Regions from separate parts of the Homo sapiens genome. Here region 2 is linked to region 1. Evidence: fine-mapped QTL for protein levels in blood plasma. Region 1 holds a variant in brackets. A gene starts in the other region. All regions are shown on their forward strands.

Region 1 (4,509 bases):
GAGCATCAAGGTGTCAACGAAAAGAGTCAGACTCTATGAGCGACCATGGCCTGTGACACAGCCCTCAGGAGACCCTGAGAACACGTGCCCAAGGTGATCAGGGCACAGTTTGGTTTTATACATTTTTGGGAGACACGAGACATCAATCAATACATTTAAGATGTACATTGGTTTGGTTCAGAAAGGCAGGACAGCTCAAAGCAGGGGCTTCCAGGCTATAGGTAAATTTTAAATTTTTCCAGTTGATAATTAATTGAGTTTATCTGAAGACCTGGGATCAATAGAAAGGGAATGTTTAGGTTAAGATAAAGGGTTGTGGAGACCAAGTTTTATTGTGCAGAGGAAGTTCTCAGGGCAGACTTCAGAGGGAGTAGGTTATAAAATGTTTCTTATCAGACTTATAAGGGTGCCTGGCTCTTTGTTGATTATCTCCTGAGTCCGGAAAGAAAAAGAAAAAAATGGGGGGAAGGGGATTCTCTATAGAATGTGGCCTTTTCCCACAAGAGACAAACTTGTGGAGCAATTTCAAGATATGGCAGGGAAATATATTTGGGGTTAAAATATTTTTATTTCCTCCCTTATTATGTGATGTTATGCTAGAGTCAGGTTAGAAAGCAGACCACGCTATATAGGGTTAAAATTAAAACCTCCTCCGATAAGACTTTATGGTTTGTAGGGCATGACTCCCTAGGCTCCTTAGGTAGGAATTTGGGCAAGATAAAAAAAAAAAAAATCAGAGTTTAGTCCTCAAAGGACTGGAATAATCAGGGAAGACTTCATGGAGGAAGCAGGTCTTGAGAAGAATCTTAAGAATCTGGGTAAGTGGAATAGAAGGCATCCCAGGCCAGGGTAACAGCATGAGCAAAGGAATAAAGGTAGGGAGGAGAACAGTGCTGAAAGCCCACATACATCTTGGTACTGCTTTCTCCATATCACAGATGAAGAAACTGAGGCTCAGAAAAGTAGAATAATGTTCCCCTGGCTGCACTACTAGTGTAGAAATCAGAAAAGCTAGGCTTCAAATTCCATCTATCTGACTCCAAAGCTCATCACTTTCCCAAGATCCACACTGCATTCTATGGCACAGCTCTGAGGGGGTGTGAGGGGAGGTGATGGGGTAGGGCTGGATTCGGTTGACACCAGAGATGATTGTATCTCTTCACAACTCCACATCCAGTGATGTCATGTTGGTAGCTTGTCATCAGCCATGGTGGGAGTATTTACACCAAGGAAATTGGCAACCACTACAAATCAAAGTTTTGTTAGTTTGGTTGATTGGCTGGTTGGGTTTTCTTCCCCCATGAATAGCTAGTTACTATAAAGTTAGCAGCACACCACTGGCTGGATAAGAACCATGGAAACCAGGTAAAGCAGTGTCTAAAGGCAGGAGAAGACCTGTGCTTAAAGCACTGGAAATCAAGGAGCCCATGAAGGAGAAGATGCCAGGGCGGTGGGTCTTAGGATGAAGGCTCTGACACTGGAATGCAGTCCACATGGAGTGTGGAGTCAAGCCCCAGAGGCCATGTAGGAGGGGCTGAGTACTAGGCCTGGTTTGGGGAGGGGCACTGGGGCAGTTGAGCATCCAGGAAGAACATGGCTGATAACCCAGAGCACGTGGCAGGCAGCCTTTTGAGAGAAAGAAAAGAGTGTCTGTGAGCTCCATGAGACTTCAGACCTTGCCTCATTCATCTGTGTCCCTGGTGCCTAAAACCATGCATGGTACAAAGGAGGCTCTATGCAATTGCACCAAAAAAAAAAAAAAAAAAAAAGAGAGAGAGAGAGAGGCTGAGGCTGTAGAGGAGTTTATAGAACAATTGAATCAATGATTAAGCAGACAAGTGATACTGATGAAGCTGAGATGCCATGCCTGGGAGAGCCATACATATCTAGTAGATTTACCAGGTTAGAGGACTTGACTCCGTTTTTTTTTTTTTTTTTCCAGTAGAGATAGGGTTTCGCTATGTCACCCAGGCTGGTCCCGAACTCCTGAGCTCAAGCCTGGAGTTCAGTGCCTGCCTCGGCTCCCCAAAGTTCTGGGATTAGAGGCATGAGCCACCGTGCCCAGCCAGAGGACTTGACTCTAATTGTTTTCGTTCTCAACCAGCTAGGTGATCCTGAACAAACCATTATCCCTTTCTTTTATTTATTTAATTATTTTTTTTTTTTTGAGGCACAGTCTTGCTCTATCACCAGGTTGGAGTGCAGTGGTGAGATCTTGGTCGGCTCACTGCAACCTCCGCCTCCCGGGTTCAAGTGATTCCCCTGCCTCAGCCTCCTGAGTAGCTGGGACTACAGGCACACGCCACCATATCCAGCTAATTTATATATATATATTTTTAGTAGAGACGGGGTTTCACCATCTTGGCCAAGATGGTCTCGATCTCCTGACCTCGTGATCCGCCCGCCTTGGCCTCCCAAAGTGCTGGGATTACAGACATGAGCCACCACACACGGCCGCCATTATCCCTTTCTTGGCCAGCCTCTGAATCTGTGCGATGAATAATTTGTACTGTCTTTGGTTTTGTATAATTCTGGATGAAACAAATTTCTAAAAATTTCCAAATAAATTGCTGCAGGCTCAGGATTCATTCCAATGCTCAGCAGAAAGGCAGCAGGGCTTGGCTGAAACAGCCTGGACTTGGACTC[T/C]CGAGGCTTGAGTCAGAGGACCGGCCCCTCGTGGGCTGGGCGTGTGTGTGGCTTAGGAGGAAATCCCTTCCTCTCTGGGCTTTTTTCTCTCCATCTGTAAAATGGAGCGGCTCCCCAGGAAGCCAGTCAAGGACGAAGTTACGCATGTTCTTTCCCCAGGAAGGCTCCACTTCCCAAGAATGCTTGGCACCCCTTGTCGTCCCAGCAGATGGCAAAGAGGTGAGAGGAGCCTTTGTCTTGGACCGGCCCCAGAGGCTCCGTCATCCCTCTTTGGTTGTTTCTGGTGCTTAATTGCCTCTGGTTTTAAAACTCCTTTCCCTGAAGCCACATTAGTGGGTAATCAATAGGGAAAAACCACAAGTGAACTGCACTCAAAAAAGTAAAATCCCTTTGGTTCCCTCTTGAGAGGAAGAAAAACATTCAATAAGCACTTAATGGAACCCGATTACTAGCAAATAATTCCTCAGAACAACGCTTTGAGGTAGGTTTTATTATCCCCACTTTACAGAAGAGGAAATAATAACACCTATTACGTATTAAGCATACACTGCATGCAAAGCACTGTTCTAATTACTTGCCATGGAATGTTGCGCTTATTCCATGGAACAATCCTGAAGACAGGGACTATCATTAATCCTGCTTTATATATTAGAAAACAGAGGAACGAGTGTGGTAGTGCAGGCCTGTGATCCCAACACTTTGGGATGCTAAGGTGGGAGGATCACTTGAGGCCAGGAGTTTGAGACCAGCCTGGGCAACATGGTGAAACCCCATCTCTACTAAAAAATACAAAAAATTAGCCGGACATGGTGGCACACGCCTGTGGTCCCAGCTACTTGGGAGGCTGAGGTGGGAGGATGGCTTGAGCCCAGGAGGTTGAGGCTGCAGTGAGCCTTGATGGTGCCACTGCCCTCCAGCCTGGGCAAAAAGTGAGATCCTGTTCCCCTGCCCCCCGCCAAAAAAAAAAAAGAAAGAAAGAAAAGAGAAAACAGAGACTTTGAGAACCTATTATTTTTGCCTCAGGTCGTAGAGCCTGTGTCAGAGACTCAGTGCAAACCCCGATTTGATGATTCCAGAGTGCAGCCCTAACTGCTGTGCTATGTTTTCTCATTCATTCATTCATCCATCTATTAAATATTTAGCAAGGGCTAACTATAAGGGCTTTGTGAAAGATGCTGAGATATAAGGTCAGTGAAAAATAGATATGATCCCTCCTCATGTCTGGCAGAGAAGACAAATACTGAGTAATTTACCCATTAATTAATTAAAATTTGCAACTATAATATGTTCTGCAGAGCCTATAATAGGGGAACTGACTTGGTCAGGGCAGTGGGAGACAACTGCCCTGTGTAAGAGTTGATTGAGCTCAGATCAGAAAAATGAATGGGCATTATCAAGGGGGAAGGACAAGGAAGCTTATTTTGTGTGTCTGGGAGGACAGGGCAGGGGTAGAGTTTGAGAAGTGGACTGTGGCCAACCACATAGGGTCTCACAGGCCACATGAAGGAGTTTGGACTTTATTCTAAGACCATGCAAAGTCTTGAAGAATTTTAAGTAGGGGGTGACAGGACCTAATTTGTCAGATGTGCATTTTGCAAATATTAGCTACATGAAAGGGCAATGTGGAGAGTGAATTAGAGAAGACAAGCGTGGATGAGGAAAGACCTGGTGGGGGCTTAAAGATAATGGGGATTGGAAGAGGGTGGTAGTGGGGTGGAGGTAGGGAAAAATAGTGGATTTGAGAAATAAGTAAGGAGTACAATTGGCAGGGCGCATGATGGATCAACCTGTACGCAGGAGTGTGATGTTTTTCTTCTGACACCAAATTGTTTGGGGTTTTTCCCACACTAACCACTAATTCTC
Region 2 (3,998 bases), not on the chromosome of region 1:
GCCTAGCACAGAGAAGCTGGACCAGGGTTAGGGGGGCCCTGCAGCAGGAACGTGCATCTGTGCAGAGCAGACTAAGTGCTGGGCCGGAAGCAATCCTTCAGGGGCCCTAGACAGGCAGCTCTGTGACCGCCAAGTGTAGAATGTGGCTGTAAGAGGCTCAGAACATCACCTCCCAGGCTGGGAGCTGCAGTGTGTGTGTGTGTGTGGGTGTGTGTGTGTACAGTTGGGGGAGGGGGGAGAAAGAAAAGTGGGAAGATGCCCCTCCAACTCTAGGACCCCAATTTCCTGACAGCCTGAGAAAGACCACAGAGCAAGGATTGAGGTCTGTGCAGGGGAGCAGTGTCTCGGACTCTGCTCAGCTCCAGGCTGGCTGGACCTTCCAGGCTCCCCAGGCACACCTGAGAGCCTACAGCCTCTGGACCCAAGAGTGCCAGCCAACACGCCTACAACCGCCCAGCCTCCTACCACCAGCCTGTCTGCAAATTCAGTCCTAAGGCAAATTTGGAAGAGAAACAAAAGGCAGACAAGAAGCCCTGCTCCTGGCCCTTCCCAGCCCAGACTTTGGGGAGAAAGGCCCCGCAGGGCATCCCTGCAGGACGAATGGGCACCAACAGGAACAGGAGGAAAATAACCCCAACTTTAACTGCTGGAAACCCAGCAGCACCCCAGGTTCCCCTACAAACGGCTTCCCAGAAGAGCTGCCCCGGCACCCCTCCCATGCTCTGTGTCCTCACGCAGCTCAGCTCTGACATGGGGCTGGGGGACCCCAGAGAAGGGGTGTGGCAGCACAGGTTCCCTGGACCAGCTCAACTACCCCCAACCTGGCTGGTAGCTTCCTGGGGAAGGTGGTCCCCCATCGGGTGGCTTTTGTTCCTCTCTCCAGGCAAGCCTGTGCCTGGAAGAATTCGGCTGGCAGGCCCCACTGGGAGGACAGGCGGTACTGCCTCCTCCCCGCCCCCAGCCCCAGGTCAACAGGGCCTTTGTTCTACCTGCACACACCGGCAGGCAGGCGGGCAGAGCCAGCCCCCTTCCCTGGCAGCTCCCCCACCCTCTGAAGGCAGGCACTCCAGGCACAGGGGCGGCACCTCACTACTCTCACTTCCACTTTTGGGACCACAGCACCGAAGCGGCACGGGGAAGCCAACACTCCAGGTAGGCCACGCACACACCCAGAAGCCCGCGTCCCCAAGTCCGGCGGGCCAGACCTCACGGCGCACAGCAGGTAAGGTGGCCCGAGGGCAGCGGGCGGGGACCCTGGAGAAAACCCGGGCGCTGCGCAGTCAAGCCGGCAGTAGGGCAGCACAAGGCAAGGAAGAGAGTGAGAGCGAGGTCAGAAAGCGCGGTGACAGCCGGCTCACCCAGAGGAGCTGGGAGCCTCGGGCGCTCGGCAGGTCGGGAGGGGTGCCGGCGAGTGGGGGCCCCCAAGAGGGCAGAAGGGGGTAGGGAAGGCAGGGCCGACCCAGTACAGCACGGCGGGCATACGGCCCGGCCTCGGGGGCGCAGCTGCGCGAGGATCCCGCCGCCCGGGCGCTCACCTGGGCGTGCGCAGCGCGGCGGAGTCGCGGCGGTCCAGCACGCCGGGCACGCAGTTGGTGAGCTCGGTCCAGTCGGCGTGCAGCCCGCAGCTCCAGCCGGTGGAGAAGCGGGAGAAGAGCCAAGTCTCGCGGCGGTTGGGCCGGTAGCAGGTGCACTTCTTCTGGCCGGGCCGGCAGTCGCACGGCACCTCGAGGCGTACGTTCTGCACGAGGTGGCGGCCGAAGGTGGTGCCGCCCGTCTTCTGGATGTGCAGGAAGACGATCACGTCGTCGCCCTTCATGTCGAAGCGCAGCGAGCGCTCCAGCTCGCGGACCGGGAAGTAGTACTTCTTCTCGTAGTGGGGGTCGGGTGTGGGGAACAGGTCCAGGTCGTCGGGCGGCGCGCGGCCGCCGGGCGCGCCCAGGCTCAGTCCTGGGCCCGCGTACTGGTACAAGATGAGCATGAAGCACACCGAGCCCGCCACCACCAGCACGAACTTGCTGGCGCGCTCAACCATGGTCCTGCCGCCGGCGCGCCGCCGCCGCATGTGTCACCATCGCCGGGGCCCGGGCGCGGGGCGCGGGGCCTGGGAGGGCAGGAGGCGCGGGCGCAGCTGCCTCCGCCGCCGCCCGCGCTCCGGCCCGGCCCGGCTACTCGGCGCCCAGGCCGCCCGCAGCGGCGCGGGCCCCGACCCTCCGCGGTGCCATGGCTGCTCCCCGCCCGGCCCCGGCTCCCCGGGCCCGACGCCCGACTCCGCTCCCGCTCGGCCCCGCTCCCGGCCCCGGCCAGCACAGCGCTCTCCGCGCCCCCAGCACCAGCCCGCTCCGCTCCACTCCGCGCCGAGAACGCTCTGCGCCGCCCCGCGCGCCGCCGCGTCTCCGCAGTCCGCCGCCGCCGCCCCGCCCCGGTCCGCCCCTGGCCCGCCCCCGTGGCGTCTCTTGCCGTCGCCGCCCGCGCCGATCCTCGGCCCCGCCTCCGGAGTGCCGGGGTTCGCCGCGGGTGCTGGGCGCGGGACCTGGGTCTGCTGCGGTGGCGAGGCCGCTAGCAGGCGGGCAGCCAGCGACTGGGAAGTGATTCCGCCCTCAGGGGAGTGGGGGACCAACCGGCAGTGCGGAGCCGAGGCGTGGGAGGCTCTCCTGGCGGGGGCCGCGGTGAGGGGGCGCGGCGGCTGGCGCTTCTGGAGCCTGGGTCCGTACCCCCTCCTCCCCAAGTCCCAGCCGCCCACGTCCCCGCAGCCCGCGCGGGAGGAAAGGCCTTGACCTTGCACGCTGGGGCGCTGAAGTTAGACGCTAGCCTACTGGGCTGCACTTCCAGGGACCAGGGCGGCGGGGGCCGCCCACCACCAGGACCGAGAGGGAAAGCGAGGCTTTCCTTTCCTGCTCGACCCCCTCACCCCTGCGGCTGGCTTTGGGACAGTGCCCCGCAGCCCCGCATTGAAGAGATGTTGGGCTGTCTGCAGAGGCCTGCGGAGCGGCTTTATGGCTTCCTCCTTGTTTGAAAAGAATATCAGACGAGGTGCATTTTCCCCCATCCATGTTTATTATACTCCAATGAAAGAGTTATAAAACATTGAGCCAATTCTTAAGAATCGTGAGTGCCCACCAAATATTCTGTCTTTCGTGGGTTGGTTGGAGAGTCCAGCGGCCCGGGCCCAACCTGGCTGCGGAGGGCTCGCTCCACGTTGGCTCGTGTGTGGGCCGGGTGGTGCGGGCTCCTCACTCGCCGCCGCCCAGCCTGGCAAGCACGCGCGGCATTCGTGGGGCGGGGGGTCCCGCCAGGTGCCCACTCACACTGCTTGGGCTCTGGCAGTACTCGGAGGCTGCAGCCCGTCGGAAGCGCAGGAGTGGGGCTGGGACCTGCCAGGATCTCACAGCTGCAGGGCCGGCCGCGGTGGGCCCTAGTGTGTTGGTTCAGGCCAGCGAGGGCTCTGGGAGCGAGTCTGGCTGCCAGGCGTGGGCTCCCAGTGTCCACGTCAAGCCCTGCCGGGGACGGGGTGGGGGGGGAGGCGGGGTGGTGCCCTGCCTTCCGTTCTGTTAGGGACCGGAAGCGATCATGGGGTGTCAATTATGCCTCAGTAAAGCTGTTAAACGTAGACAACATCACACCAGAAAGCCCTCCTGGAAGCAAACCCAGAGAGCTGGAAAAACCAACACCCCAAACCCAGCTGAGCGGGCGGCATGCATTTTCCAAAGGGACCGCAAGAATATCCGCTGTGGACAGGCGGGTGCAGAACCCTCAACACAGCCCAGCGCACCCTGGAGTCCATGGTGTGGGGTCCTCAGTGGGACCTAGGGCCCCAAAGCCCCTGCTCATCTTGTAGGCTGCTTTAAAACTGTCCCTGGCCCGAGGGTCCTGGGGGCAGCTTGGACAAGCTTCTCCAGAAGTGACTCATTCCTATAGGAGTGGGGGTGCAGTCCCCATGGGACACAGGTGGGGCCGCCCTGCAGTGTGCTTGGACCTGCCTGCAGCCCCTTGACGCAGTC

Which allele goes with the higher level. Positions count from the first base shown, and alleles are read on the strand shown. Strength reflects both the effect of a copy and how common the allele is.
For the plasma level of the protein whose gene starts at base 2,367 in region 2, allele T in region 1 goes with a higher level than allele C (strong association).

What was found. PIP is the chance, under the fine-mapping model, that this variant and not a neighbour inherited with it causes the effect. The UK Biobank Pharma Proteomics Project read protein levels with antibody pairs (Olink). The fine-mapping took linkage between variants from a reference panel, not from the people measured, so its PIPs are less certain.
Region 2: it holds the start of HS6ST1, and the variant in region 1 is fine-mapped to the plasma level of the HS6ST1 protein (UK Biobank, PIP above 0.99).

What each region holds. Positions count from the first base shown.
Region 1 is chr17:28,389,960-28,394,468 of GRCh38, forward strand. All of the region lies in intron 7 of SARM1 (sterile alpha and TIR motif containing 1), which reads left to right. Among named protein-coding and RNA genes, the nearest start is that of SLC46A1, 14 kb to the right of the region's middle. The variant T/C (reference allele first, on the strand shown) is at 2,647.
Region 2 is chr2:128,316,502-128,320,499 of GRCh38, forward strand. HS6ST1 (heparan sulfate 6-O-sulfotransferase 1) reads right to left here and starts at 2,367. Exons shown (of 2, transcript NM_004807.3): 1 at 1,536-2,367. The coding sequence starts at 2,062. RefSeq lists an enhancer at 225-374 and silencers at 1,376-1,605, 2,300-2,709.